Linked DNA regions of Homo sapiens: regions 2 and 3 are each linked to region 1. Evidence: fine-mapped expression QTL. A gene starts in region 1. Each other region holds a variant in brackets. All regions are shown on one strand. Distances are from middle to middle.

Region 1 (10,279 bases):
TGGAAGCCTTTGTCCATTATATTACTCAATGTCCTTTAGTAAGGAACCAGGCAATACATGCTTCCTAGAATTTAGTATAAGGAACATGTCTCACTTTTAGATCAAACTTGGAATTTTTTTTTTTTATCAAACAATGCAAACTATATGTTGTCATGAACTTTTAGAGCTTAGAAGGGCCTTTAGAAATCAACTAACCCAGCATTTTCTGAAGTGCGCTTTAGGTGTTATGAAGAAAAAAAGAATTTTATGAGCAAACAAGTTTCTTTCTTTAACAACTTTATTGAGCTACAATTTGTATACCATGAAATTAACCCTTTTAATATGTACAATTCAGTTGTTTTTAGTATATTCACAGAGTTGTGTAGCCATCACCACTATCTAATTTTAGAACATTTTCATTACTCCCAAAAGAAACTTCATACTCATTAGCAATCACTGCCATTCCCCCAGCAAAAAAGTTTCTTGTTTTTTTTTTTGTTGTTTGTTTGTTTGTTTTACCACAGGAATCCTTGGACCCTTTATTGTGAATCTAATGTGTTTTGTGAATTTATAAGACAGGGTACCATCTGCAGTATTTCCCGAACATACTTAATAGCTAATATTTCACTGCTTACTACGCTAAATGCTGGACATGTATTACCTCGATTCTCATAATAAAATCTGTGAGGTACCATTTATAATAAATGTGGCTATTTGAGCACAAAAAGATTAAAGCTAAGTAATTTGCTCAATGTTCTTAACCACTCCACTGTACTACCTCCTGCAGAACTGACTGGTTGTGGGAGGAGAATGGACAACTAGTATTTCATAATTTTGTAAGTGTTTCAGTTCAATCTCTTTTAATTTAACAGGGAGAAAAATGGGGCCCAGGAAAGTAATCTGATTTAGCCAAGAATACACAGCATTTTCTCTTTTATTCTTTGGGATAGTTTACAGCTAAATTTGAAACCTAGCTATAGTTAATACCCCTGTTGGAACTGACTTTGATTTTTTTTTGAGACAGGGTCTCACTTCCGAGGGCAGTGGCATATCACTGCAGCCTCAACTTCCCGGGGCTCGAGCAATCCTCGTATCTCAGCCTCGCGGGTAGCTGGAACAACAGGCATACACCACCATGCCCGGCTAATTTTTGTATTTTTAGTAGAAACGGGGTTTCACTATGTTAAGCAGGATGGCCTCGAACTCCTGGGCTCAAGGGATCCGCCCGCCTCCACCTCCCAAAGTGCTGGGATTACAGGGGAGAGCCTACCGCACCCGGCTGACTTTGCTTTTTTTTTTTTTTTTTTTAAGGTGTCTCTGCCTGTCTCCCTGTAAGCAATGCACTTCACCACTTTTGCATGCACACGTCCTAGCCATCTTTCAATGTCTAGTACAGCTAGGGGGAATCACTCCACTTTCCACTCATCCTAGGTCGATGTCCTCTCTCCCTCTGTGCACTCATACATGGCCCTTCATTTCCTCTGGACATTTCTGCCTTGAATTCGAGTTACTTCAATCTCCTGCTGTACCCCATCTCCTACCGAGAGAGCTTTTGGACGGAAGGAGTCGGCGTGCACTCAAAAGGCCAGCAAGCGGGAAGCAATCAATAAGCACTTAACAGTTTCCTATCCATCCTTGGTTTAGTTCTTGTAGAGCAAGAATTTCTCTCCTCAAGCCTGCCAGCCCCCGGGGGACAGGGTTTACTGATTTTTAATGTCTCCTGCCCGAGTCCAGGACCCACCACGCGGGCTGTGGGGACCGTCAGTGCTCACCGCCACCAAGGTCGTTATGAACCAAGTGCGGGTCAAGTAACAAGTAACAATAACTAACTAGGGCCGCGGTAGGGCGGCTGCGTATCCGAAATCCCATCTAAACCTCGCGACGATCCTGGGCGGGGGCATCGCACCCTTTTCTGACAAGCAGCAGAGGCAAGCGAAGGGGTCAGTGCCGAAGAGGGGGCCCGTGTCGGTGGGTGACAGACCAAGGCCTCAAACCCGAGTCACCGCCCAGAAGATCTTGGGGCGGAGAGAGTTCCTCACTCGCCCCGCCTCGGCACCAGCCTCTGGAGCGCTGAGACCTGGGGTCCCGGGGTCGCCGGACGTGGGCAGGGTCTGGGGGTCGCGCGCACCCCCGCCCCCTGCCCCGCGCCATCTTGGAGCGCTGTGGCGGCCGCTCCCGACAGCTTCGAACCGTTGCTCTGGAGGTTACTCACCCGCACTGCCCGGAGCCAGGCCCCCTGCCACCTCCGCGACCCCCGCCACGGCCAGCAGAAGGAGCAGCGCACCTCGCAGAGAGGCCCGGACGGTCGCCATGTCCGGGCCGGGCGGCTCCAGAGCCGCGGGATGCTCGGACCCAGCTTGGCCGCAGCCGCTGCCGCCGCTACCGCCGCCGCTCGCGCGAGGCCCCGCCCCCAGCGCCCGGCCCTTTGGTGACTGGCTGCGGCCCGCTCAAGCCCCGCCCCCTGCCTCACAGTGTTTCCAAAACCTCCCGGGGGCGGGAACGTGCCCCGTACCAGGGCTCTTTGTTATGGCCCAACTGTGTGTCGGCTTCTGCCAGGAGTCCACCAGCCCACGTTCTCCCAGAGTGAAGTCAGAGGATGTCAGAGCTGGGAGAGTCATTAGAAAACCTCTGCCACCTCCTGAGGTTTCGGGCCACTGAGGTGAGAGAGGAGACTGACCTTACTCAAGATCACACTGCAAGTTCACCTGAGAACAAGGGCTTAGTCCAAGGCCGAACCAAAGGGGCTTCTCTCCTTCATGTACCCTCAGTAATACTCGCAATATTCTTTCTGCCGAGACGCTGCCTCGCACCCAAAGAAAGCATGTCACCCGGGATCCTTCGGCCTCCCGCAGACACGGCCCCCTGACAAGGGTTCATCACTAGAGCTCTTTGGCACTATAGCCTCAATGTGTCTTTGTTGTACTTTAAAAATTATTTATTTATTTATTTAGGCAAGAGTCGCTCTGTCGCCCAAGCTGGGGTGCAGTGGCGCGATCTCGGCTCACTGCAACCTCCGCCTCCCGGGCTCAAGCGATCCTCCCACCTCAGCCTCCTGAATAGCTGGGACCACGGGCGCAGGTGACCACGCCTGGCTAATTTTTATATTTTTTTTGCAGAGAAGGGGTTTCACCATATTTCTCAAGCTGGTCTCGAACTCCTCGCCTCAAGCAATCCCCCAGCCTCCTCCTCCCAAAGTACGGGGATTGCAGGCGTGAGCCACTGTGCCTGGCCTTGATGTTACTATTAAGCACCTATTCCTGATAGGAAAAGAGGATAGGAGAACGCTTGTATACCTAGATGTGGAAAGCCTTGAATATCCGGCTGAGAAGTATAGACTTTGTCCAAGAGACAAGTTGGAAGTGGGTCCCACCCCACCCATCAGCCCAGCAGCTACGTGGAGAATGTTTAAGCCACTGGCTAGCAAAGCTAATTCATTGTCTCTTTTTTTCTCTGTGTGTTCCTGAATTAAACCCTTTTTCCTCCTTTTTTGAAAAAGCATGACCACCGTTTTAAATTCTCATGAAGACACCTGGGGCTAAATTACTTAAAACATTTTTAAAATTCCTTAATATTATTAAATATCCAGTCATTATTTACATTTTTCTTATTGTCTCATGATTTCTTTTTACAATTTTTCAAGTTCTAAACAAAATCCATATATTAAAGTTGGTTTTTATGTTTTTGGGCTCTTACATTTATCCTCTCTTTCGAGTTTACAAAAGGAAAACATGAATAAGTTAAAATATCTAAAACATCTCCTCTGATGACTCTGTTGCTTCTGTGTACAAGGTAAACTGAGGCACAATAAAATTTTAAAGTTTACTTCAGCACGCGGTGATTCATGAATTGAGAAGCTGCAAACCAGAAGTGGTTCTGGGGCTCAGCTCTGTCGAAGAAGCAGATTTTTACAGAGTGAATGGGAAAGTAATAAAAAGAAAATATTTGATTGGTTACAGTTATAAAGTTGCCTTATTTGGTCTATCCCACTAAAAAGCCTCTAGTTATACAAGTTTGTGGACTACTTCTGATTGGTTGAGCTTGTTCTGTTTTTCTTTAATATATGCATTTACAAGAAATAGCTCAGATTAACTCAAGTAAGTTTAAGGTCACTTATGAGGACTAAATTGACTATCTGCTCAGGAATTCTGCAGACCTGGTCTTCATTTTAATTTATTTTAACAATTCCCCTCTGAGAGTAATAGTACCACTATTGACACAGTCACTGGGCCAAAGAGTCATGATGCTATCATTATTAACAGTTGCGGCTGGGCGCAGTTGCTCATGCCTGTAATTCCAGCACTTTGGGAGGCCAAGGTGGGAGGATAACTTCAGCCCAGGAGTTTGAGGCCAGCCCAGGCAACGTTGTCAGACCCCCATCTCAATTAAAAGAAAAAAAAAAATAAGTAGTTACATTGGGATGTAGAATCACATGTAGGCTTTGGCAGTTGGGGTAAGTTCTTCAAGTTGTCTAATCCTGATGGCAATCATTTGATGTGTGGCTGCTGGAAAGCATTAAAACTCTTGACAGGGGCTGGGCGCGGTGGCTCATGCCTGTAATCCCAGCACTTTGGAAGGCCAAGGTGGGTGGATCATGAGGTCAGGAGTTCAAGACTAGCCTGGCCAACATGGTGAAACCCTGTATCTACTAAAAATACAAAAATTAGCCAGGTGTGGTGGCGCGTGCCTATAGTCCCAGCTACTCAGGAGGTTGAGGCAGGAGGTTGAGGCAAAGTAGACCTTATTTTTTAGAGCCGTTTTAAGTTGACAGCAAAACTGAGTGGAAAGTACAGAAGGTAGACAGTCCCTGCCCCCACATATGTAAACCTCCCCCCACTGTCAGCATCCTGCACCAGAATGGTACATTTGTTACAATTGATGAGCCTACATTGACACATCATCAACCAAAGTCCATAGTTCACATTAGGATTCACTCTTGGTGTTGTACATTCTGTGGGTTTAGACGAAGGTGTAATAACATGTATCTACTCTTATTTTTTTTATTTTTTAAGATGTAGCTATCAGAAAACTTAAAATTACACGTGTGAGCCCAAAGTGAACCACAAATGTAATTATGTTTTTCCTGAGACAGGGTGTCCTTCTGTTGCCCAGGATGGAGAGCAGTGGCACAGTCCTGGGGCACTGCAGCCTTGAACTCCTGGCCTGCAGTGATCCTCCCACCTCAGCTGCCTGAATAGCTGGAACTACAGGTGCATGCCATCATGCCCAGCTAATTATTTTATTTTATTTTTTGTAGAGATGTGGTCTTGCTATGTTTCCCATTCTGTTCTCAAACTCCTGGACTCAAGCAATGCTCCCGCCTCGGCCTCTCAAGCTGTTGAGACTACAGGCATGAGCCACCATGCCCAGCCCCAATATGCAATTTTAAGCACTGTAAGAGTAGTGTAATTATCTTTCATTCTAAAAAAAGGTTAATGCTTAGAGATGAGTACGATATTTTAAAGAATGTTACTCACCAATGATTTTGTTTTGAGCCAAAAAACCATGGTTCTCAAGGTCTTGCACCTTTCCTCCTCTTCTTCTATCTCTGACTTCAGTTCCTACTGTTTCTGTCGTGTCCAGCCATCACCTCCAGCCAATCTTGCTCAGGGCCTTTCCCTAACTGCTCCATGTAACTCCTGCCTCAGGACCTCTGTGCTTGGAGTTCTTTCTGCTTGGAATTAATTTCTCCCAGATAGTTGTACACTCTCCCTTTTCTTTTTTAGGTCTTAACTCAAACGGCCTTCCTTAATTGCCCTTCTTAAAATTAAAACTCAACCCCACCTCTGAACTTCTTCTCCCCTTTCACACTTTATATTTTCAAAAGCCATGATTACCTTCTACCATATTAATAGGTTCTAATATATAATATTATAAAATATACTACTTACTTTCCCAAAGTGTTGCTTGTTTATTATTTGTTTCCTTACTTCATGAGGGCAGATATTTTTGTCTGAGACTACAGACTATCCTTATTTCTTTTATACATACACACACACACACACACACAAACTTTTTTTTTTTTTTAAATGAGACAGGGTCTTGCTCTGTCACCCAGGCTGGAGTGCAGTGGCATGATCACAGTTCACTGAAGCCTCAACCTCCCAGGTTTAAGTGATCCTCTCGCCTCAGCCTCTTGAGTAGCTGGGACAACAGGTGTGTGCCACCATGCCCAGCTAATTTTTTTGATTTTTTGTAGAGACGAGGTCTCACTATGTTGCCCAGGCTGGTCTCGAACTCCTGGGCTCAAGTGATCTTTCTGTCTCGGCCTTCCAAAGTGCTGGGATTGTAGCTGTGAGCCACCATTCCTGGCCAAATATCCTCATTTCTTAATTGCTTCCTGCAGCAGAGCCTGAATCTGTTTCAGAAAGAGAAACTTTTAAAATTAAGAATATGGCAGATGTTTAAGTAGTTTTAATTAAATAGGAGTATTGTTTTTTAGAACTTTTGCATAGTAAATTTCTAAAGCCAATCTTTAATGGAAATACTTTTTCTGACTTTGTTTAGCCTGAACATATTTGATCATGATTAATTGACCTAGCTTAATAAGGAAGAGGTCCATTTTGAGTTAGTTAACTAAGACTTTATGGCATCTGATTTCATATGTGTACAGTAGGACAATTTTGTGAAATATTAATGTATTTTCTGTTCCCAGTAATTCCTTCATTAGAACTAAAACATGAGGGCAAGGCATTCACATCTTCAGAGATGATCATTAGAGTAGAAAAATAGTCAAAGAGGACAACTCCTAGCTTTTGGTTTTAAAAAACATACACTTAAAATTTCAGGCAGAGACAATGGCTTTAAAGAGAAAAAGCCTTTGAAATATCAGAACGTGGTCTATTTTATAGCTGAGAGCATAAAATATTTGTATGAAGAACAGACATGGAAGAATACTATGATTAGTCAGACACAGTCCCTCCTACCCCCTCAGTCCCCAGCAATTTGATTCACTCTGATGTGGAAGGAGGAGAGCCACTGGAGGAAAAGAAGGCGTCTCTGGTCTCCTTCTTCTGATGCAGTGGGGTGGGACATAGAATCCCCAGAAAGGCTTGAGACTACGAGATAAGAGGGGATCTGATTCTCCTTGCTGTGTGGAGCTCAGGAAATGACAGACCTCATAAAATTCATCTGCACTTAACACGATGTAGGTATAGAGTAGAAATGGCTGCAAATGTGTCCTGTTTCATGCTCCACACAGAAGAGCAGCCAAATGTTTTTTTGCCCCTCAAGAGATGCAAGGTAGGAGACAGCTGAGAGCCTGAAGCGACCTCAAGATTGGAATGAGGAGGCTGTATCTGTTATTTGAATCATCTGTACAAATGGATACCAGATGAGAATGCAGATGTCAACAGGGATTGATGATGATGACTGAGGACCACATGTCCTGTCTTCTTCTCCAGTCCCAGTTGCTGGCTTTGGCTCTATATAGACCTCTCAAAGCTGGGGAGGGGTTTGTGAGAGGCCTTGACTAAACTGAGATCCCACTGAACTTACTGAGATTTAGTTTTAGTCATTCGGCAGGAAGGGGATATGCAGAGTCAACTAACTGTCCATTGAAGATTTGATCACCCCTTCTAGAAGTGGTTGCTTGAAAGCAACTACCAGCCAGAGACATTTTCCAATTGCTAGTGTGTCATGTTCACTGTTAATTTAATAACTGGGAGTAAGGCCTTGGAGAACGAAGGGTCCCTGTGCCTCGGAGCAGAATTGGCATATCTAACATCCACACTGATGCCTACAGTAAGATCTAAGAGGAGGAAGAAAAGCCCTACTCCTAGGCATCCAACACCCACGTTATGAAATTCAGCATTGAGACCTCAGCCTATGATGCTGGTACAATATCCTGCCAGCCTCCAATAAGCCCTCTAAAGACGTAAGCCTGTGAATATAAAATTTCCACCCCCCCATTCTTTACTCTCTTTGGCAGTTTATTTTAGTAATTTTTGAACTTAAAACTATTATTTTTTATTTTTTAACTATAGAATCATTCCTTTCCCAAAAAAATCTTAGAGTTCTGCTATATAAACAAGAAAAAAGTTGTGTTGTATTGCTACACTTATTTTATAAGTTCAAATTTATAGCAATTATGTAGTTCAAAGTCAGTGAATGAGAGTTCAAAGACAGTGAATGAGAATTCAAAGACAGTGAGTAAGATTTTGATAAATATAAAAACTTGAATTCTGGAATTATGGATGACTGTTGCAGTCACACATGTTCCAGCTTCCGATTTATTTAACGCATTTTCTTTTTGTTGCCTGCTATAGAGAAAATCCTGATTCATAGAGATGAGTACCTTGCCAAGGGTCACCGTTTTTGAAATAACTTAACTTGCAATCCCACACAACTCTTTATTTAAATTAAGATGGTATCCTGAAAATGAAGCACTGAGAAATTTCTGTTTAAATATTGGTTCATGAAAACTTATGTCCACATAAAAACTTGCACATGGATATTTATAGCAGCTTTAGTCCTAATTGCCAAAACTTGGAAGCAACCAAGATGTCCTTTAGTAGGTGAATGGAGGAAAAAAAGACAACAACTTTGGTGCATCCAGACTGTGGAATATTATTCAGTGCTAAAAAGAAATGAGCTATTAAGTCATGAAAAGACATGAAGGAACTTTAAATGCATACTACTATGTGAAAGAAGCCAATCTGAAAAGGCTCCATACTTTATGATTACAAATATATGACATTCTGGAAAAGGTAAAACAATAAAGACGGTAAAATGATTAGTGTTTGCCTGGGGTTGGGGGAAGGGAAGGATGAAAGGCAGAGCACAGAGGATTTTTTAGGGCAGTGAAACTAATCTGCATGATACTGCAATGGTAGATACATGTCATTATACACTTGTCAAAACCCATAGAATGTATTCTATGGGTACACCATAGAGTAATGTATACACCAAGAGTAAACCCCAATGCAAATGACGGATTTTGGGTGATGATGTGTTGATGTAGGTTAACCAATTGAGACAAATGTACTACTCTGGTTGATAGTGGGGGAGGTTGTGCATATGTGAGGACAGAGGATGTGTGGGAGCCCACTGTACTTTCCACTCAAGTGTGAACCAGAGTGTGCTAAAAAAGTTTATTAATTTAAAAAATGTTAGATGTTAAAAATCTGAAAAAACTGATTCACTAATATGACAGCTGCTCAAATTTCTTATCACACATTGAAAAGAACCAAAGATGTAGCAACCAAGACTTATGTTTAATCTCGATGCTATTTATAAGGTAGTAGCAACCAAAATTTGTGGTTAATCCTCATACTATTTATAATGCACATTATTTTTGTGTGACATGTTCTCTTGTTATTGTGCAATTGGCTATGATGCCATAAAAAGAACATGCACCAAGCAGATGATTCATAGCCTTGCCCAACACTTAATTGAGAACAGCACATATTTGTACTTCTTTGTATAATTTTACATGAGCTATGTGCATAGGCTTGGATTAAAGAAAGATCATTCCACATCTGAATCTATTCTAGTAATAAACAGAGAAAAGAGAAAAGATAAGTGCAGAGCCACACTTTTTTCGAATCAAGGACATTTAAAGAAGATTGCACAGAGATGGCAGGAAAATAATTATTCCAAGTTCTAATCAAAAGTGAGTCAATTCGACAGGACACATGTTAATGTGGTAGTAGCTTCTAGCATGTCAAAAATTGAAAAACAGAACACATTCGTGTATGTCCACTGTCTTGCATATTAAAAGTTATTTAGAATAGCTATATTTTTAAAGAAACTCAAATTAACTACTTGTGGGATGTGACGGACCTCCACTGGGGAAAAATTAGATTCTTGTTTAATCAGGTTATATTATTCCAGAGTTTTGTATAATGTATGTTTCAACATATCTATTTTAATTCTGATACCTTCTTTCTCTCCCAGAATAATGAATCACACTCTCTTCTACAGCTGGTATAAATATGTCATTGTGTTCTTTTTTAGCTTTTTGTAATCATAACAGCATTTGTTGTTTAATCCAGCTGAAGTTTATGGAAGTATATGGTGTGATTTATGGATCAAAGGCAACCTTCATTCAATTGAATGTTGTTGCTGTTCCACTATTTATTAAAACATGATTCCTTCTTTAAGCTATTAATTTTGGTCTGATGTATATGGATTAAATTCTTACAGTTTGGATTCATTTTTCTGGTATCATGAATATGAATGATTTGCAAAACAAAAATCCAATGGTGTATAGTTCAATAATTGTTACCCCGCATATAAGTTCAAATCTGGTAGGAAGAATCTGACATTGTGATCTTCAAAAGATCCTTGTATTGTTCCATTA
Region 2 (10,279 bases), 38 kb after region 1:
GCACTTCTCCTTGTTGCTGCCATGTGAAGAAGAGTATGTTTGCTTCCCCTTCTGCCATGATTGTAAGTTTCCTGAAGCCTCCCCAGCCATGCTGAACTGTGAGTCAATTAAACCTCTTTCCTTTATAAATCACCCAGTCTCAGGTATGTCTTTATTAGCAGTGTGAGAATGGACCAGTACAGTCTCTTTCAATCTACATTTCCCCCTCCCTTTTTCTATCTTTCCCTCTACCTCTGTTCCTGCCGCCACCACCCTGCTTTTAGGCTAGATTTTTTTTTTGGAAGGAATAGTTTCTCAATATGGAAAACTATAAAGTTTACCACAGTCTGATTTTGCTGATTGCAATTCTGTGGTGTCTGTCTTTGTGTTTCCCATACATTGATGCCTAGATCTAGTTACTTAATTTTTTTTTTTTTACTGGAGTTATGAGCTCATGGCTCCTGAGACCTTTTGCATGACGCTAGTATCTTTGATGACTTCCTGCTATCTGATATGTCAAGATATTACAAGCTCAATATTCACTCTTCCTTCCCAGACCTGAAACAACTATTTTGTCTAACGAGCTCTTTTTTCGTTTAATGGGGAATGGTATTTAGAAGTCATAATCTGGGTGCTAGGTTTACTATTGAGTTTCCCATGGTTTCTAAATGTTTCAGTGGAAAGAGCTATGAAAAAATATATATAATTGAATTATATGTATGTATGATATATAAATATATATTTAGATTTAGATCAAATATATAAATCATACATACAGACAGACAATTCAAATTAAGAGCTATGGATTTTTTACCTAATCTCATTGATTTTATACCTGTATCTCCTTCTTCTATGTACTGTCTCCTCATTCCAGAAATGTTTGGAGATGGCTTGAAGTTATACACACATAATGATGTCAGGAGTTAACATTGAGCACACCTTCTGTAAAGAGCAGAATTCAATCAAGTCATCCAGTGGTGTGTGTCTGGGAGTACTGGGGCTGACCATAACAGTTGAGGTGATGATGTGGGCTGTAGGCCCTTTTCTCTCGCTTGTTCCTGAGCTTCCTGCAGGAGATCTGAGTCTGGGAGTGAGGCATTGGGTGGCAGTGGGCTAGGAAAGAGTTGCAAGATAAATTCAAGCCTGGAAAGAAAGATTCCAGACTGGAACCTCAGGGCATCTTGCAGCTTGGGAATGATTTTCCTAAATCTTGATGAGGGCAGTCACAAGCCCCTGCTCACCAGGGCACTTTGGCAAAGAAGGGGACATGATGCAGACAAGAAGGAAGCTGGCAGATCACCTCTAAATGGCGTCCAAATTCCTGAATTCTGCATGCCTGCTCTGTTCAAAATAGATGTTTCCAATATGTAAGAGCCACTTAGAAAAAAGAGGTTTGTTAAATATTTGGAAGGATGGAGTCACAGTCAAAAACTACATATCTGGGGTCCATGGTTGCCAACATTTTAATATCATGCTTCCTTACAATTTAAACTGTATTTGTTTATTGATTTATAATATATACCTATATACTTATAGGTATATATTATATACTTATAGGTATATATTATAATACCTATATACTTATATTATAATAATATATTATATATATAATATATATTATATAAATATATATATATAATATATATAATAGGTATATATTATAATACCTATATATTTATAGGTATTCTACTGTACCAATATGTTATGGACATTTACAATGTTTACAAAAATAGAAGTTCAAAAAGATAGGACAAAGATAAAATTTTTTTTAAAAAAAGAGCAAACATGGGACAAAATCAGAAGAAAATGAGGGTAGGCCACAGATTCATTCATTCATTTATTCAGCATCTATGTATTGAGAGTCAGTTGTGAGTGAAGCCCTATTTTTATACTAAGGAAACATCTGTGAACAATACAGAAAAAAACTTACCTCTGTGAAACTTGTATTCTAACAGGAGAGAAATAAGCAATAAACAATTACAAAAATAAATAGGATGTTAGAAATTTTATGGAATCAAGACTGCATAAAGGATAACTGAACACATGCATCTAATTTCATTCCTCCTAAAACCCATGAAAACTATAGTCTTTCTTTCTTTCCAATAAAATCTACAAGGTTAAGCAGAAGAAGTAAGATATCAACAGCAAGAACATTGTGAAAGTTAGGAAGCAGATGAACTAGTGCTAATTGCCATAGCAGATCTGACAGAGCCAAATCCCAAGCCAGAAACTTGGAAAAGTAAGTGTCTTACTCCATTTTCTGCTGCTTTAACAGAATATTTGAGACTGGGTAATTTATAAATAATAGACATTTATTTGGCTCACAGTTCTGGAGGCTGTGAAGTCCAAGAGCATGACACTGGCATCTAGTGAAGGCCTTCGTGTTGCATCATCCATGGCAGAAGGTGAAAGAGCAAGCAAGTACATGAAACAAGGAGAGAAAGGAGGCCAAACTCCTGCAATAACTCACTCCTGCAATAATGGCATTAACCCCTTCATGAAGGCTGAGCCCTCTTGGCTTAATCACCTCTTAAAGGTCCCATCTCTCAGCACTGTTACCATGGCAGTTAAATTTCACCATGAGTTTTTGAGGGGATATTCAAACCACAGTAATTGATAACAACTAGATTTGTAGCACAGAGAAACTCACTGTACCAAGTACCTCTAGGACCGGGGTGAAGGAAGTACTACTAAAAAAGGAAGACTAGGTGACAAATGTATAAGAAACAGAGTCCCTACACCCCTTCATTCATTCCATGACATTAGTCAACTATCTCTTGCCTACCCCAACAAAACTTTTATTCTCTGGAGGGTAAAATCATGGCTCTCTGGACTGGCAGACAACAGCCACAGTTGAGAGTATGGGTACTTTACTCTTTCATGGAGTAAAAAAACAATTAGCATAAAAGATCAGGAATCAAAATGGCTTCTGATTGCACCAGAATTACCTTCAAATTCAGAGGGAAGATGATTTCCAATAAGTTCCTAGAATTCCACACACTACTGTGTTGATTAACTTTATGTGTCAACTTGACTGGGTCATGGGGTGCCCAGATATTGGGTCAAATATTATTCTGGATATGTCTGTGAGGGAGAACCTGGATGAGATTAATATTTGAATGCATAGATGGAGTAAAGCAGATTATCCTCCCTAATGTACTAAGCCTCATTCAATCAGTGAAAGTCTTGAATAGAACAAAAAGGATGAGTAAGAGGGAACTTCTCCTGCCTTTGAGCTGGGACATTAGTTTTTTCATCAGCTCTCCTGGGCCACCAGCCTGCTGACTGCAAATCTTGGGACTTGTCAGCCTCCATAATCAGATAAGCCAGTTCCTTATAACACGTACACACACACACACACACACACACACACACACACACACTATTAGTACTGTTTCTCTCAAGAACCCTGGCTAATACACCCACCAAATTATCACTCAGGAGGTTAAATAAAAATATGTTCAGACACATAAGATCTCAAAAATGTGTATATAATACACTTTTTCTCAAGAAGTTATTCAAGGCTGAGTGAATGGCTTATGCCTGTAATCCCAGCACTTTGGGAAGCTGAGGTGGGTGGATCATCTGAGGTCAGGAGTTCAGGACCAGCCTGGTGCCCATGGCAAAACCCCACCTCTACTAAAAATACAAAAGTTAGCTGGGTGTGGTGGCATGCGCCTGTAATCCCAGCTGCTCAGAAGGCTGAGGCAGGAGAATCACTTGAACCATGGAGGCGGAGGTTGCAGTGAGCCAAGATTGCGCCATTGCACTCCAGCCTGGGTGACGGAATGAGATTCCATCTCAAAAAAAAAAAAGAAGTTATTCAAGAAAGTGCTCTATCAAAATAAGAGAATAAACCAAGAAATAGAAAGAAACTGACAAAAGAAACAGAAGTTCCAACCCATAAGAGAGGTGTAAGGAGTCCCCAGGACAGTAAAAGGAGATCCTGGCATGACAGTTGTACACCCTGCAGAGAAGACAGCCAGCCCAGAGGGCAGCCCTATGACTCCAGAGACAGGCATGTCAAGGGCTCTTATTCATAGACCCCTGCTGCCTATGGTGATTAACTTGAGGACAGAATGCCCCAGACAGCCTGGCCCACATTCTTTCCTGCACTGGCCTTATCTTGGCCATGCATGTATAAAATGCCCTCTTCTCTCTCCATGTCTTGCTGACTGGGTTAGTAGAGGACACTCATTCCACTCCAGAGAGTATTCTGCTTTGATCTATTCCCAAGAGTGGGAAGAGGGCCATACTCAGAGCTTAGAAGCAGAAAACATAAAACAATCCACTCTCTCTGATGATATTTCTGCCAGATGTCTGGTACCTGGCCACACTGCAGCACTGTCTGACTTACCCGGAAGGGACTATTGAAACTGAGAGCTTAGATTCTCAGGAGAGTCTTCCCCAAAACAGTGACAATATTTTTTTTTCATCAAAAAGCTAGATTTGCCAGTCAGAATGACTATTATTAAAAAGTCAAAAAATAACAGATGTTAGTGAGGGTGAGAAAAAAGGGAAACATTTGTACATTGTTGGTGGGAAGGCAAGTCAGTGCAACCTCAATGGAAAACAGGATTGAGATTTCTCAAAGAACTAAAAATAGAACTACCACTCAATCTACTTTTTTACAGAATTAATTCTTTTTTTTTTTTCTGAGACAGAATTTTGCTTGTATTGCCCAGGCTGGAGTGCAATGGCGCAATCTCTACTCACTGCAACCTCCACCTCCTGGGTTCAAGTGATTCTCCTGTCTTAGCCTCCCGAGTAGCTGGGATTACAGGCATGCGCCACCACGCTTGGCTAATTTTTGTGTTTTTAGTAGAGATGGGGTTTCACCATTACATAATTAATTCTTTTCCTTTATGTAGATACCACTACTGGGTATCTACATAAAGGAAAAGAATTAATTACGTAAAAAAAGATACCCACACTGGTACATTTATTGCAGCATTATTCACAACAGCAAAGATGGAATAAATCTAAGCATCTATAGATAGATGATTGGATAAAGAAAATGTCATCTACGTACACAATGGAGTACTCTTTGGACATAGAAACGAAGGCAACCATGTATTTTGCAGCAACATGGATGGAACTGGCCATGTTGGATGTCCAGTCTCTTAAGTTATGCAGCCCGGAAACAGAAAGTCAAATACCAGTGTGTCCACATGGACATAAAGTGTGGAATAATTGACATTGGATACTAGGAAGTGTGGGATGGTGAGGGGGGCTGAGGGAGGAGAAGTTACTTAATTGGCATAATGTACATTATTTTGGGTGATGGTTGCACTAAAAACCCAGACTTCACCACAACTCAGTATATCTGTGTAACAAAACTTCACTTGTACCCCTTAAATGTATTGTTTTAAAAAGCTAGGTTTGTAATTGTCACTCCATTTTTCAAAATGGAACAATTCATTGTACACCAATACATTGTAGAAGGTAAAACTGTGAAGGAAATAAAGGGAATATATATTAGCTTTCTCTTGTTGCATAATAAACCACCCCAATATCAGCAGCTTAAAACACCTAATTATTAGCTCACAGTTCTGGAAGTGAGAAGGTTGGGTGAGTTAGGCTGGGCTCTGAGAAAAAGTCAAGTTCATTG[G/A]TATTGGTGGCAGAATTCAATTCCTTGTGTTTTTTAGACTATGGTCCCAGTTTCCTTGCTGGCTGTCACCAGGGCTCATGCTTAGCTCCTTGTGGCAGCTCTCTGGTTCTTGTTTGCGGCTCCCTCCATCTTATAATCAAGAAACAGCATGTGGAATTCTTCCCACACTTTGAATCTGGCTTCTCCTTCTGCTACTAACCAGAGAAAACTGTTTTTAAAGGGCTCACTTGATTAGTTAGGTCAGACCTCGCTGGATAATCTTCTAATCTTAAAGACAACTGATTTGGAGCTTTAGTTACATTGACAAAATCCCTTCACAGCAGTACCTAGGTTAATGTTTGATCACCACACGAAGGGAATTATGTGATCATATGGGGATCATGAAGATTCTGCCTACCACAAAATGATTTCCATAGAAGTCAAAATAGTGGTCACTTCTGGAAGGGAGGGAATAAGGAAATTTAATTGGATAGGGAAATAAGAGGGGCTTCTAAGGTTCTGGAACATCCTAATTTTAACCTGGGTTGGGGGGGGGGACATGGTAGTATACTTTCTTATTTTTCCTTAAATGGTATACATATGCTTTTTACATTCTTTTGTGTGTGTAATATATCTCACAAAAAGAAAAAAATTCAATGCAAGACAAAATGGCTTATGACTACGAATGTGGCATGTATTTGATTCTAGGATTTTTAGAGCTAGTGTATGTATAAGGCAGGCATGTTCCTTTGTGAAAGAGGTGGTTAGGATTGCCCAAGTGTTTTTGCTAACACTGGGCAGGCTCTTCTTGCACACCAAGAACATCTGTGGAATGAGAGCTCATCATATGTGCCACCTACCATCTCCGGTATTCAAATTAAATGGGAAAGGGAAAACTGGAATGTGATTAAGAAACTATAGTGTATCAGAAAACAGTGGTCCACATTGAAGATGCTTCTGGCTGCTGCTTGGGCAGTCACAGCTCTCAGCTTTGGATCTTAGAAGTGGAGGTTACCAGATCCCAGTGGTAAATCAGCGATGCTCTCACAAATGCACAGATATAGTATACTCATGCACACACACACAGGAAAAGACTGAGCTGTTCGCAACAGGACACCACTTCCGTGATCAACTGTTCTTTTTTAAGTCCACAGCTGCCTTGCCTCTGAAACTCTCTGGTAGAAGCCATGACCAGATTCACTTATGACCCTTTAAAGGTCTGGTCTGGGTAGGGTATGCCTAGCAGAACCTATTTGGTGGGATGCAGACAAGAGATCTTCTGGGTCACTGGCTTTCATACAAACCTGAGATCCTGAACCCTTTGAATTTGTAAATGGCCAAGGGGACTAACCCACAAGGATTCGTCCTGTGTGGTTTCCTATTCCCCCAGATCTATCATGGACTCTGGTGACAGTTCTCATGGACTGGGGGTTCTTGTTAATTTGGGGAGGGCCAGGATGATCCTTCCGCTCTAATACTTTCCAATAGCCCAGCAAAATGGGTAGGAAGAGAGGGAAGGAGAGAAGAAAGTATTTCTGGAGAGACTTCAGAGTAATTGGATCATGGGGACACAATCCCAGATGTATAAGAAGTTTCTTGACTTGGTAACTTGAATTTCCAAACTTTAAATGACTTTGGGGACTAGAATACTCCAAATAGCAGGATGGGATTTAAGTGGCTTTGTATGAGCAATGATTAGTCTTTTGTGGATTTTACCAAAACACAGAACAAAGACAAGAAAACGTCCACCCATTTCAGGCACTAACTCATCTGGCTGCTGCTTTCTGACCAGATTGGCTATTTTTGGCTTCTGGACTACTCCCAGATCCCAGAGAAGTAATTTGAATCAACACATTTGTTGAAAAGGTAAGCGAGCACTTTTAAAAGAATATAGAAACTCTTGTGGGCCCAGCTCCATCCCCGGTAGCATACCTGGTGACTAAGTGGCATGGGGGAATTTTGAAGGAAATAGAAAAGGATGTCTCCATGGTGCAACAGTCCAAGAATGAGAAATTCATGAGATCATTTAGTCCCTGGGATGGAATATCTCTGATAATAATCTATTCCAAAGTAAGCATCCAGGAAATGAAGTTCAGAGAAGAAAAAGGACTTCACGATGCCCATGCATTGATTGGTTGGCAAATGCCAGTCCTGTAAATATGTGCTCCAGAAGAGTCTGGCAAGTGAGTGAGTGAATGAATGGGTGGACAAATAGCCCAGGGTTCTGTAGATCTTGGAAGTGCTAGTAAAGAGGAGGCAGAGAGCATCTGAAATTGCTCACAGGCCGGGTGCCATGGCTCACGCCTGTAATCCCAGCATTTTGGGAGGCCAGGGTGGTAGGATTGCTTGAGCCCAGGAATTTAAGCCCAGCCTGGGCAACAAAGTGAGACCTCGTCTCCAGAAAAAATTAAAAATTAGCCAGGTGTAGTGGCATACGCATGTGGTCCCAGCTACCTGGGAGACTGAGGCAGGAGGATTGCTTGAGCCTGGAGTTTGAGTCTGCAACGAGCTGTATTTGCCCTACTGCACTCCAGCCTAGGTAATGGAGTAAGACTCTGTCTCAAATAATAATAATAATAATTTTTAAAAGTGCTCACAGAGCAGAATGGTCAGGGATTGAGGATGAGGAGTACCAGTTTTTTCTACCAGTCCTAGGTCCCAAGGGGAAAAAACATACAAATGGAATATAACATTTCTTGCCAAAATTGAACCAAATGAATCATCCACACATGTAACTTGAAGTAAATGTGTGATGCCTGTCTTAAATGTGATGAGGAAAATTAAATCTAATCAGGTGACATTTGAAACCTCTCTATGGGGTGGCCAAATACCACCAAGTAGATTTTGATCAAATTTCCTGCATTTTACTTAAAGCAATATCGAGAAACCTTTGAATTGTCAGAGCTGTTCTCCAATTGCTCAGCAAGTCTGGGCTTCCTCACTGGCTGTCTGGGCACTTTAGGCATCAGAGAATCATGGAGCTGGCCCTCTGAGTTTGTACAAGTGACATAGAAACACCATGGTCAGTTCCAATCAGACCTCCCCTGTGCTGGGGTTCCTTCTCCTGGGGCTCTCTGCCCATCCAAAGCTGGAGAAGACATTCTTCGTGCTCATCCTGCTGATGTACCTGGTGATCCTACTGGGCAATGGGGTCCTCATCCTGGTGACCATCCTTGACTCCCGCCTGGACACACCCATGTACTTCTTCCTGGGGAACCTCTCCTTCCTGGACATCTGCTATACAACCTCCTCATCCTTGACAGCTTCCTGACCCCCAGGAAAACCATCTCCTTCTCAGCCTGTGCAGTACAGATGTTCCTCTCCCTTGCCATGGGAGCCACAGAGTGTGTTCTCCTGAGCATGATGGCGTTTGATCGCTACGTGGCCATCTGCAACCCCCTTTGGTACCCTGAAGTCATGAACAAAGCTACTTATGTGCCCATGGCTGCTGGCTCCTGGGTAGCTGGAAGCCTCACTGCCATGGTGCAGACACCCCTTGCATTGAGGCTGCCCTTCTGTGGAGACAACATCATCAATCACTTCACCTGTGAGATTCTGGCTGTCCTGAAGTTGGCCTGTGCTGATATCTCTGTCAATGTGATCAGTATGGGAGTGGCCAATGTGATCTTCCTGGGGGTCCCTGTTCTGTTCATCTCTTTCTCCTATGTCTTCATCATTGCCACCATCCTGAGGATCCCCTCAGCTGAGGGGAGGAAAAAGGCCTTCTCCACCTGCTCTGCCCACCTCACTGTCGTGATCGTCTTCTACGGGACCATCCTCTTCATGTACGGGAAGCCCAAGTCTAAGGACCCACTGGGAGCAGACAAACAGGACCTTGCAGACAAACTCATTTCCCTTTTCTATGGGGTGGTGACCCCCATGCTCAACCCCATCATCTACAGCCTGAGGAACAAGGAAGTGAAGGCTGCTGTGAGGAACCTGGTATTTCAGAAACGCTTCCTGCAGTGATGGTGGAGGGGTCCTGATGGCTCTGTGCTTCCTGACTGCTCCCACCTGAGAGTCCCAGAGGACAAGATGAAAGACCAAGTTGATCAAAGGTTACATGGGTAAATCTCATTACACAGAATCTCATTACATAGAAGGGCTCTGTAGGAACAGGACACATTTAATGCAACTCCACCAAAGTATGTTCTTGTTTGTCTAGCCTCGTAGTTCTCATTCTCCATGATGGATACTGAATGAATTGATGTCAAGGAAAAGTAACTCTTCACATTTTTATTGTTGGATGAATGAAAAGCTCTAGTCTGTAGGTCTTTGATTCAATTGCTCCACGGCTTCTTTCTTTGAACATATTTGGCTGCTGCTTTCTGACCAGATTGGCTATTTTTGGCTTCTGGACTACTCCCAGATCCCAGAGAAGTAATTTGAATCAACACATTTGTTGAAAAGGTAAGCGAGCACTTTTAAAAGAATATAGAAACTCTTGTGGGTCCTTACTTTTATGTTACCTTTCAAGATCTTCCTACTCCATATTACATAATAGTTAGTTTTATTTTTCTCCTCATTGTTTTTTTTCTGGTTGTCATATAAATTCTTAAAACTGTTTGCTGAATTTTTCTGTCTCTGTATCTTCATAAATTAACCTGTAGCTTTGTCTCTCTCTTGTCCTTACTCAGAGTCCTCACCAGAAAATCATTAATGCTCTTGGAGAAGAGAGGGGAGTAAGGAAGGTGTGACAAAACTGATGCA
Region 3 (10,279 bases), 200 kb after region 1:
GGAGGAAAGCAGACAATGGGGTGGGAGGCAGGAAATGAAAGAAAGAAAGAAAAGAACTGTCACTCTTCACCGATAAAACAAATAGATTCCCTATACTGACACATTCAACAAAGTGGTTCCAGGTCAGGGGCCACAGGTGAGAGATCAGCTCAAGCACTTGCACAGTCATACAGTAGTCCGGAAGTGGTCATGTGACAGAGGTCATGGCCCTCACTCAGTCACACTTCAATCTGGACGCGGGTTGGGGTCAGGGTCGGGAGGTCAGTTAAAGTCACACTTTAGTCTGGAAAGTGGTCAGGGATTGGAAGTGGGGTTGGGAAATTAACTCAGACACTCACACAGTCACACTTTGGTCTGGGCAGTGGTCCCCAAAAGTTCCCCCTTGCTCCTTGAAGATGATGAGGTTCCAAACAGCCAGGAATGTGTCCTCAGGAACATGGAAGTGGAAGAGCTCGGTGCTGGCAAAGGAGCGGAAAGGACTCAGCTTGCGGGGTGAGCAGGTGGAGTAATCAGTCAGGAAAAGGCCTCCTGGGAAGCAGGAGAGAGAGAAAGGAGCAGGGCAGGACAGAGGGCATTTCCATTAAGCAACAGGCATGCCAGTCTTCCTCACCAATAGCATCAACTCCACAAATGCTCTCCTCTGAGCCAGGAACTGGGTTTCAGGCTGCAGATCTGAAACCTAGCCATCATCTGGTTTAATCCTTACGTTAATCTTATTTAAAAAAAAACAAAAACAAAAACAAAAAAACCCTCCTTTTACAGATAAGGAAACTGAGGCTCAAACCTAGACCAAACTGAGGATGCAAACCTAGCTCTCTCTAAATCCAAAACTAAGACCCTTTGACTTCACAGCTGCCTCCTCACTTAGGAGCCATTTTCTCCACTTACCAAACCTAAAAAAAACAGATGTGTGGAAGGTGTGTGTGTGTGTGTGTGTGTGTGTGTGTGTGTGTGTGTATTTTGGCATGGCGTCTTAAGCCACTGAGCAGGCTGAAACTCCACCTGTGGGGCTTGGGAGTCAGCATGGAACTGTGTAACTTCCTTGTTGATTTTCTTCCCCTTTCTGTTCCCCTGTGGTTAGGAGCAGTAAAAACCCTCAGCAGCCTCACAAGCGCTGCCTGTATACTGGCTCAGGGCAGGAGAGGGGAGGGGAAAGTGTGGTACGGCTGCCAGGGGCCTGCTTGGGTGGCAAAAGCAAGGACAGGAGCTGGCAGGCCACCATGAGAGTCCCCAGGAAAGGAGAGTCATCAGGCCTCCCAGGTCAGAATGCACAGCTAGTAGGTGGGGGCCGGGGGAATGTTCCCCCAAAGGGAAGCCCAGTGAGGCAGTGAGTTAGTGACCCAGTGGATTTCAAGCCCCTTGGGAATATTCAGAGCAGGCCGAGTTGGGAGGTGGGGAGGAAGTGGTCATCCCTCATTAAAATGCCAAGATACCTGATCATGATTGTCAGGAGCAGAGCCAAGGTGAGCAGAAGTTGTGTCAGCAGCTAGCCAGGCAAGGGACTAGAATAGCTGTCACAGTGGAGGCAACCAGTAGCAGACAGGGGAAGAGGGTCCCAAATGGCAGGCAAGGTCTCTCAAAGTAAACCTCTAGGGAATCTGACTGCTCTGGAGACTTCGGACCAGCCAGAAAAGAAGCCCAAGATGACACCTCCAGGACAGGTGAGAAGGTGGGGAACTCAGCAGCTTCAGGACAGACCCGGGGCTGGAATAAGGACTACTCTGGAGGGGCATTTTCAGCCAAGCAGGAAATACCCTCAGGGCTAACCTAGTCCAATCATCTCCCTCTCTGGAGATGGGAGAGATTAACTCCAAAAATGAGGTGTTTTTGAAATAACAAAGAAAGGGAAGGGGAGGCTGCTGAAGGACGAACACTGAACCAGAGCAACCCCAGGAGTCACCCCAGAGAGCTGCCCTACATAGGTGGGGGCCATTGGAGGCCACGGTTACACTCAAGGACTAGTCTGTCCAGTTCAGACCACATGATCAGTCTCAACTGTCAGGAAGGAAAACCTGTCACCTTGCAAGCTGAGCACTGCCTAGGAACCCAGAGAGGCTACCAGTGCAGCATTCAGAGAGTGATAGAGATGCAGCCGAGAGGGATAAAGGGAAATGGGACCGACTGATGGAAGAGACGGGTTTCCTAGGAACCCTAGCTGTGCTAAGTAGGAGGCAGAAGGCTAAGAGGTGAACAGCCTGGATACTATTGTTAGAAGAAATCAGAACTCTAGCGCACCTTCTGCTGGGGTTAGGGAAGGGCTGATCCTCCTCAAAGCTGGTACCAGGGATGGGTCATCTGATCAACCATTGCTACCGTTAGGAGAAATGTTGGTCAGTCCCTCGGTGCAGACCCTCAGATGAGGGCTAGTGGTGAAAAGCAGTTTAATGACCTTTGGGAAACATGGACAGACAAGCACAAAGATCCTTGTAATTCAAAGGATCACAGTATGGCCTGGGGAACTGGGGAACTAGCTAAGCCATCCCCACAGTGGCCAGGGGCTACAGAGGTCACAGAATAGGCCAGTGAGATAAAGGAGTGAGCAGCAGCTGGGAATGCTAGGAGGAACTTGGAAGAAGTTCTGAGGGCAGATGCTTGAGAAAGGGTCCACAGCCCCATTCACTCCAAACTTTGGTTTGCGGTTTGAACAGGGCCTACCAGAGCTGTGTCCAGAAGAAGCATGAGTAAGGCCCTTACCGAGTTCAGATGAACTTATTCCAGGTTCCCCAATATTTCTATGATGAAGCTAGGGTAATTCCGACCATCACCCACCCCATACACACATACACATACACACACACACACACACACACACACACAC[ACC/C]CCTACACCTACACACATAGGCTGAGGCTGGCCCTGCTAGTAATAGCACTAGGTAGAATAAAAGCCCATTTTTTTTTGAATAGCAAGGCACGTGTGAGTCCTCAACTAAGCCCAAGGAAAAGATCCAAGGATCAGGAGTGGGACCACTAGACCCAAGAGATAACTTCCATTCCTGAAATGAAACCGAAGCAACCAATAAGCACTGTGCAGCCCTGTGCCATGATGGTCCTATGACACTGCCAGCCTCTCCTCAGACAAAACCCATCACCACCATTAGGTCACAGAGCACCCTGTACTTTGGTCCAAAATTGCCAAGGCATTCATTATTAACAGCACTAAAGGCAGCCCTGCCTCCATTTGGGTGTATTGGTACTCTTTTCCAACTTCATTACAATTCTCCCCAAAGCACCTGAACCTGCTTCTGGGCAACAGTGTTTTTATCCACAACTTTCAGCTGTATATGCTCTGTGGCTGTCGGTCACCCTGCTCCCCTCACCAGCCCAATGCTTGCTCAATGGGCACATGAAGAAGCCATGATGGCAGAGGATGGAAGCTAGGAACTTGGCCCAACAGCATAAACTTCCCCTTACCAAAACTGAAAACCTGACTGGCTACTGCCTCTGCCCAGTGTCCAATTTGCCAGCAGCAGTAATCAACACAGAGTGCCTCCACAGCTCCTTCCTTCAAAGGCACTGGCTGGGGATGGATGGATAACTTATATTCGTTATGGGAGGCATGCAACACTGCCCTCACCCTTGGAACTGCTGAGAAAGGGTCTCCAGCCCCATTCACAGCTTCAGTGATCTGTCCATATGAGGAGGAGGCAGAGCTGAAGAGGAATGTACATGGGCCACAACATGTCCCCTCCCCTTCATACCATAACACAGGCGCTCAGAAGATACACTGGCTCACATGCACCCCACACACATGCACGTGTCTACACTTAACAACACACAAGCATGTACACATGCTGCCAGCCTCCCCACAATCCCTCAGTTACACACATACACATAAGTGACCAGACATCTCTGCAGGGGTTGTGACCTTTCACGTGCATTCGTCTCCTTAAGTTTGTACACTGAACCAGGCCCCCAGAGCTCACTGATACCCATTCTCCACCCCCCAGCTGTTCTGTTGGCTGTTATTTCCAAAGACTCCATCAGGCACATCTCCATCCTATCTAGAGTGACACCCACCAGAGGTGGCTACAGACTTGGGCCATGAAGACTACAGTCACTCCATGATGGAGCCATCTTCATGGCACATCCCCTAGACCAGGACACCCCCTCCTCCTCCCACATTCCAACCATTAAAAAATTGGACCTCTCTCTCTTCTGTCCAAGTCACTTCCCCACCGGAGGGTGGCCCTTGGCTGACGCCTGGCAAATAAGGAACAGTTTGTGGATAAAGCACCCTTGTGGGCAGACCGGGGAGAAGGGAGGTTATGCTTTGAGCCTTTCCCCACTTGGGTCTATTTTTCTATTAAGTATACATTGCAGTGGATAAAAAAAAACACACTAGTATGAAATAGGAATTAGGAAACCTTTTTTCTAGCCCCAGCACACTGCCATTCACAAGCTCTCTGACTTTGGACAAATTGCTCCCTCCCTGAGCCTCAGTTTCCCCATCTGTAAAATAGCCTCCGAGTTTCAGCCCTGCTCTAAAAGTATCAGGAATTATTCCTAGGCAAATCAATCTTCTTTGGAACAAGAATCATTACAAGAAGAAAACTCATTATAATGGCAACTAATCCATATTCATCTATTTGCTACATATTATCTTTAAAACTCTTCTTCATGCCGTTTGAATGCATGCCCAATATCTCAAAGGTTTGGGCTATATATTCCCACACTACACTAGGGGCTTCTGGTGTGGGACTGTCTCTCCCCCATCAAACTTTGTGAGCAGGAGCAAAGCCCACAACATTTCCCTGGAAAAGCAAGAGTCAAAGTGGGGTCAGGACAGACACCAGAAAAAATCTTGGAGTCTCTGTGCTAGAAACTGTAAGCCACCTGCTGAGCCTCAAACCCAATTAATTACCACTCTTTTGACCCTGCCAATCCCTGTTGTGTAAGACCTCTCTACTCTCTATTTCTCCCACTTGCTCCCCAATGATCTAGTTCCCCAGGTCCCACCTCTCCTGAATCTCTCCAGCCCACCCCTCCCTGCCGGAACCCCATTCCTGCCTCAATCTTCCCTGCTTCTGCACTCACCAGCCCCTGGGCCAAGGACAGAGAACAGCAACAGCAGCAATAGGGCTGGCGGCAGCTGAAACCCAGACTTGAGTCTAGGCTGGGAGAGGGGCAGAGTATGAGAGATAGGGGGGACTAGAGGGAGAGACTTGGGTAAACACAGAGATGAGGGCAAAGGCTGAGATAATGGGTTGGGCTGGGCTGGACACTGGGGCTTGAACAAGGGCAGGGAGTGGGATGGAAGGAAGGGCTGTGATGGGGACTGCAGCAAGGGACGGGGTTGAGCCAGGGCCTTAAGCAAACACTGGGAATGGGGCTGGGACAGGGCCTGGGCTGGGATTTGTGACAGGGGGTGGAACGAGGGCCGAGGCCGGGATGGGGGCCAGGCCAGGGGCAGAGACTGGAAGGGGGTCCTGGATGGGGACCCAGGCAGGGGCTGGGGCCGATGTGGGAAGCGGGGCGAGGGCGGGGCTGGGGGCCAAGGCGGGGATTGGGATAGGACGAGGGGCCGGGACAAGGGCTGGGCCATGGCCCGGGGCGGGGGCGGGGCCGGACAGGCCAGCGCGGGGCGCTCGCAGAGCTGGCCCGCGGCTCCGCTCCCCACCCCCGGGGGGTGGCCTCCGGTGTCCTCGCGGGCCCGGGGCGGGGGCCGGGGACCTGGGTAGGAGTTCAGGCCTGGGCGACTCCGGGCTGCGCTGAACCGGCGATAACCAGGCCCCGCGGCGGCGGCCTCGACTTGACGTCGGCGTGACGCCCCGCCCCCCGGCCGGCTCGATTGGTCCCTGTCAGTAAAGCCCGCCCCCGCCCTACTCTATTGGTCCCCAACTTAGTCCTGCTGGGCTTCGAGGACACACAGACTCCGCCCCCGCCTCAGCTACCCGAGACCCTGCCTTTCTCACCCCAAGCACAGAGCCCGAGGTCCCCTCAGATCCTCACAGCCCCCAACGACCGCCCCACAGATGTCTCAAAGGAACCCTATCCTCACAATCCCAGACTCCCCCGGACGTACGCACAGATCTCCGCAGATCCTACCCAAACACTCGCTCACAGAGATCCCGCAACACACACCCCACTTTTCAGAAGTAAACCCTCTGGGCTCGCCCCCTCGAGGCCCAATGCAAGCCCCTCAGGAGACCTTACCCACCGGGGAGGTGACCAGACCGCCGTTGCCACGGAGACTACTAGGCGTTCCGGTTGCCCTGGTGACCGGCGCCTACTCTCCTGGCCCGGGTTCCGGAGGCTTCAGTCAAGACCCTCCCTCATTGGCCCTAGACCCCTTGTCCCTACCCACTTCCCCAGGTCATGCCAGAGCTCCTTTGCGAAGTTCTGCAGATATCCAAGTCCCCTTCCCAGATAGCAGACTTTCAGGCAAGGCATTTCAACACTCAGCACCTGCAGCTGAGGCACATCCACAACCAAGAGCCTTTCCTCCCTGAGGATCAACACCTCCCCCTGCCATCCTAAGTCAAGGTCTTGACCTAAGGACTTGTAACAACCAAGCCAAAGCCCAGAGGGTAGGTGGTTTCTCCAACGGCCCTTGCCCTCTTCCCTCAAAGACATCTGTCTTTCTCCCACCCCTCAGTCCCTTCACATTGTTGTAGTAGTAGTAGTAGTAGTAGTAGTAGTAGTAGTAGTAGTAGTAGTTGTTGTTGTTGTTGTTGTTGTTGTTGTTGTTGTTGTTGTTTGAGACAGAGTCTCGCTCTGTCCCCCAGGCTGGAGTGCAGTGGTGCGATCTGGGCTCACTGCAACCTCCGCCTCCCAGGTTCAAGTGATTTGCTTGCTTCAGCCTCCCCAGTAGCTGGGACTACAGGCGCCTGCCACCATGCCCAGCTAATTTTTGTATTTTTAGTAGAGACTGGGTTTCACCATGTTGGCCAGGCTGGTCTCGAACTCCTGACCTCAAGTGATCCACCCGCCTTGGCCTCCCAAATTCTGGGATTACTGGCATGAGCCACCATGCCTGGCCCACATTCTGTACTTTTCATCCTTACTCTCCTCCTCCACCCAATTTCCTCCTCCCCTTCTCTTTCCCCTTCCTCACCTCCCATCTTCTGGTTCTCCACTCTTAGGCCCCTTTTCTCTCTAGCTGACTCTGGTCATCTTCCTCCCTGTAATCCTACCTCTGCCCCTAATTCCCTTCCCAAACATCCCCTTCAAAAAGGCTCTGATGCATTTAAGGAGTGATATATCTAGCGTCTCTGGAACATGGGGGTAAAGTAGGGAGCACGGAAAGTTAAGGCAGGAATCCTCAGGCTGTGTTGAAAATGATGACAGGCCTTGAATGCCAGGGCCAAGAAATTTGGACTTAATCCTTTAGACTGAGTCATGGAATGTTTTTAAGCCACAAAGTGCCAGTTGTTGGGCTTGCACTTTAGAAAGATCCTGATTGGGTCAGGAAGGAGGACTACATCCTTGCAGGATAAATTAGGTATATCCCCCTCCCCACCGTATCCTAGACTCACCCCAGAACAACATCAATTTATTTGTATTGCCATTGTTGGTTAATCGGTCTCTCTCCTAGACTCAACTCAATCTAGAGCTTAGCACAGCGGGTCAGTAAAAGCATCAGATTAGGCTCATTGTAAAAGTATAAGTTACATAAATCCATGAAAGAATGGGTGAATGGATTAAAATGCTGTGGATGGAAGTAGAGGGGCAAAGTTATTACACAAAGGCTGAAGATGATGAGAACTTGAATAAAATTGGAAGGGAGAGGAGAGAATGCATTTGGGGAATATTTAGAAGATAGGAAATAGAGTTATTGGTGCCTATTTGAAGATGGAGTCTAAGGGAAAAGGAAAAGACTAGGATAATTCCCAAAGTTCAGTTTTGCTGTCTGTGGAAACACTCAGTTAGAAATGACCAGCAGGGGCCAAGCACGGTGGCTCACTCCTGTAATCTCAGCACTTTGGGAGGCCAAGCAGGGCAGATCACCTGAGGTCAGGAGTTCAAGACCAGCCTGACCAACATGGTGAAACCCCGTCTCTACTAAAAATATAAAACTTAGCCGGGCATGGTGGCACACGCCTGTAATTCCAGCTACTTGGGAGGCTGAGGCAGGAGAATCACTTGAACCCGGGAGGCGGAGGTTGCAGTGAACCGAGATTGCGCCACTGCACTCCAGTCTGGGCAACAGAGCGAGACTCCATCACAAAAAGAGAAGAGAAGAGAAGGCCAGCAGGCAGGTGGGTATGAGTGTGAAGTACAGAGGTTGAAAAAGGTCTGAGCTAGAAATGTGAATTTAGGAGTCATTGGTACACAACTGGAAGTAGTTAAAGCTTTGAACATGAATGACATCATTAAGGGAGGAGGATGTGTGTGGTGCCTAGACAAAACCAGGCTGCGTGCAGTGTCTTGCCTTATGTGACAGCATTCCCCTGCACTCTCAGGAGCCAACCCCAACTTTGGCTTGGTATTGCCAGTCTCTAGAACTCCATGGTCTGACCTCCAGGGTTTTAAGATATGCCAAGGACCCTGCTCTTGGACTGCCCAAGTGGTGTTGTTCAGACTCCCTCCTGGGACATGGTTCTCTGCTACCATCTACTGATGGGATTCGAACTACTTCAGTCTTTCAATCTTTAAGTTCCAGCTCCCTAACAAGCCACAGCAGCATGCCATATGAGGTCTGGACACATGGGTGAACCTTTTGGCATCACACTCTAGGACCCAGAGTTCATGTTGTTTCCCTCTTATATCTCAGCTGCACTGATATCCTTATCCAAATTCCATAATGCACTGCGAACCCTGGGCTCTGCCCTGACTTGCCGGCCCTCTATTTCCAACCTAATGAAGCCTGTACCCTGTTCTACCACTAGATGGAAGCACATGAGATCATAGAAGAGCCTCATATCACCATGGATGCAGAGAAGCACCCCCCTTCAAAGGACCCCTCTGCTGAGGACTTACAGGAGAACCATATCTCTGAAAGCTTCTTGAAGCCTTCCACCTCTGAGACCCCGTTAGAGCCCCATACCTCTGAATCCCCTTTGGTGCCATCCCCTTCCCAGATCCCCTTAGAGGCCCATTCCCCTGAAACCCATCAGGAGCCTTCCATCTCTGAGACTCCTTCAGAGACCCCTACCTATGAGGCTTCATTGGATAGTCCCATCTCAGTGGTGCCAGAGAAACACCTTACTCTTCCTCCCCAATCACGAGACTATGTCTGTCTGTCTTCTTCTGATACTCTGAAGGAAGACCTCTCCTCTGAGTCTTCTTCCAATGAGGTCCCATGGACAAGGAGGTCTACCCATCTCTCTGAATCTGAGAGCCTTCCAGAACACTGTCTTTCAGGCCCTTCATCCCAGGTCCAAGTGGACACAACCGAAAAGCAGGAGGAAGAAGCAGGAGAGGTTGAAAAGGGAGTAGATGCCAGTGACAGCACTGCTCACACAGCCCAACCTGGACACCAACTAGGCAAGAAGAAGAAGAAGAAAGGAGTTAGCTGTAATTGTACCTGTCCTCTCCCCTGTCCTGTTCTCACTACTATTCACTGTCCTTGACTTGCCCCAGGAGGAGGAGACTGGGTTACTCTTGGACATGGCCCCTTCTCTTAGTTTTAGGGCCTTCTCACTTCCCCCTGGTTACTCATCCTCTCCCATCCTAGGTAACACAGCCCGCCCAGTGTTCCCTGCTAGGCAGACAGAGCTGGTGGAAGTGGCTAAGGCAATGCATAGAGAGGAGTTTGGTGCTCAAGTGAACAATCTTTTCCAGTGGGAGAAGGATGCAGCCCTGAATGCCATCCAGACAGGTGAGCCCATGTGGCCTTTCAGAGGCCTGTGACAGGCCCATGGGCATCCTCTAATCCAAAAGATCTGGGAACCTGAACATTCAGCAGATAGCTTCCCCTTTTGGAAATGGCTATACCACCTGCCTGGAAAAGGAGCAGGCAAGTGGGCCAAGGAATACAAGGGTGGATGCAGACAAAAAGTGGGGAGATTCATATAAAGCCCAGGTAGAGACAGGTAGCTGAACTAAAATTATTAAACACAGAAGGGTCGGCTGGGCGCGGTGGCTCACGCCTGTAATCCCAGCACTTTGGGAGGCCGAGATGGGCGGATCACGAGGTCAGGAGATCGAGACTGTCCTGGGTAACACGATGAAACCCCGTCTCTACTGAAAATACAAAAAATTAGCCGGGCGTGGTGGCAGGTGCCTGTAGTCCCAGCTACTCGGGAGGCTGAGGCAGGAGAATGGCGTGAACCCGGGAGGTGGAGCTTGCAGTGAGCCGAGATTGCGCCACTGCACTCCAGCCTGGGCAACAGAGCGAG

Direction of the effects. Positions count from the first base shown, and alleles are read on the strand shown. Sizes are in standard deviations (SD) of each study's normalised expression. Not every link is listed here.
For the expression in lymphoblastoid cells of the gene that starts at base 2,377 in region 1, allele A in region 2 goes with a lower level than allele G (large effect, 1.5 SD a copy in TwinsUK).

The links.
Region 2: its variant is fine-mapped to the expression of RECK in lymphoblastoid cells (TwinsUK, PIP 0.92).
Region 3: its variant is fine-mapped to the expression of RECK in whole blood (INTERVAL, PIP 0.94).

The regions. Positions count from the first base shown.
Region 1 is chr9:36,029,011-36,039,289 of GRCh38, reverse strand. It overlaps RECK (reversion inducing cysteine rich protein with kazal motifs), which reads right to left and starts at 2,377. Exons shown (of 21, transcript NM_021111.3): 1 at 2,192-2,377. The coding sequence starts at 2,291. RefSeq lists silencers at 2,098-2,247, 2,258-2,457.
Region 2 is chr9:35,990,595-36,000,873 of GRCh38, reverse strand. It overlaps the pseudogene OR13C6P. Among named protein-coding and RNA genes, the nearest start is that of OR2S2, 38 kb to the right of the region's middle. The variant G/A (reference allele first, on the strand shown) is at 5,591.
Region 3 is chr9:35,824,710-35,834,988 of GRCh38, reverse strand. TMEM8B (transmembrane protein 8B) reads right to left here and starts at 5,761. Exons shown (of 13, transcript NM_001042590.4): 1 at 5,034-5,761; 2 at 339-528. The coding sequence starts at 5,541. FAM221B (family with sequence similarity 221 member B) reads left to right here and starts at 6,257. Exons shown (of 7, transcript NM_001012446.4): 1 at 6,257-6,526; 2 at 8,828-9,425; 3 at 9,616-9,759. The coding sequence starts at 8,828. RefSeq lists enhancers at 4,669-5,169, 8,533-8,892 and a silencer at 5,455-5,904. The variant ACC/C (reference allele first, on the strand shown) is at 2,819.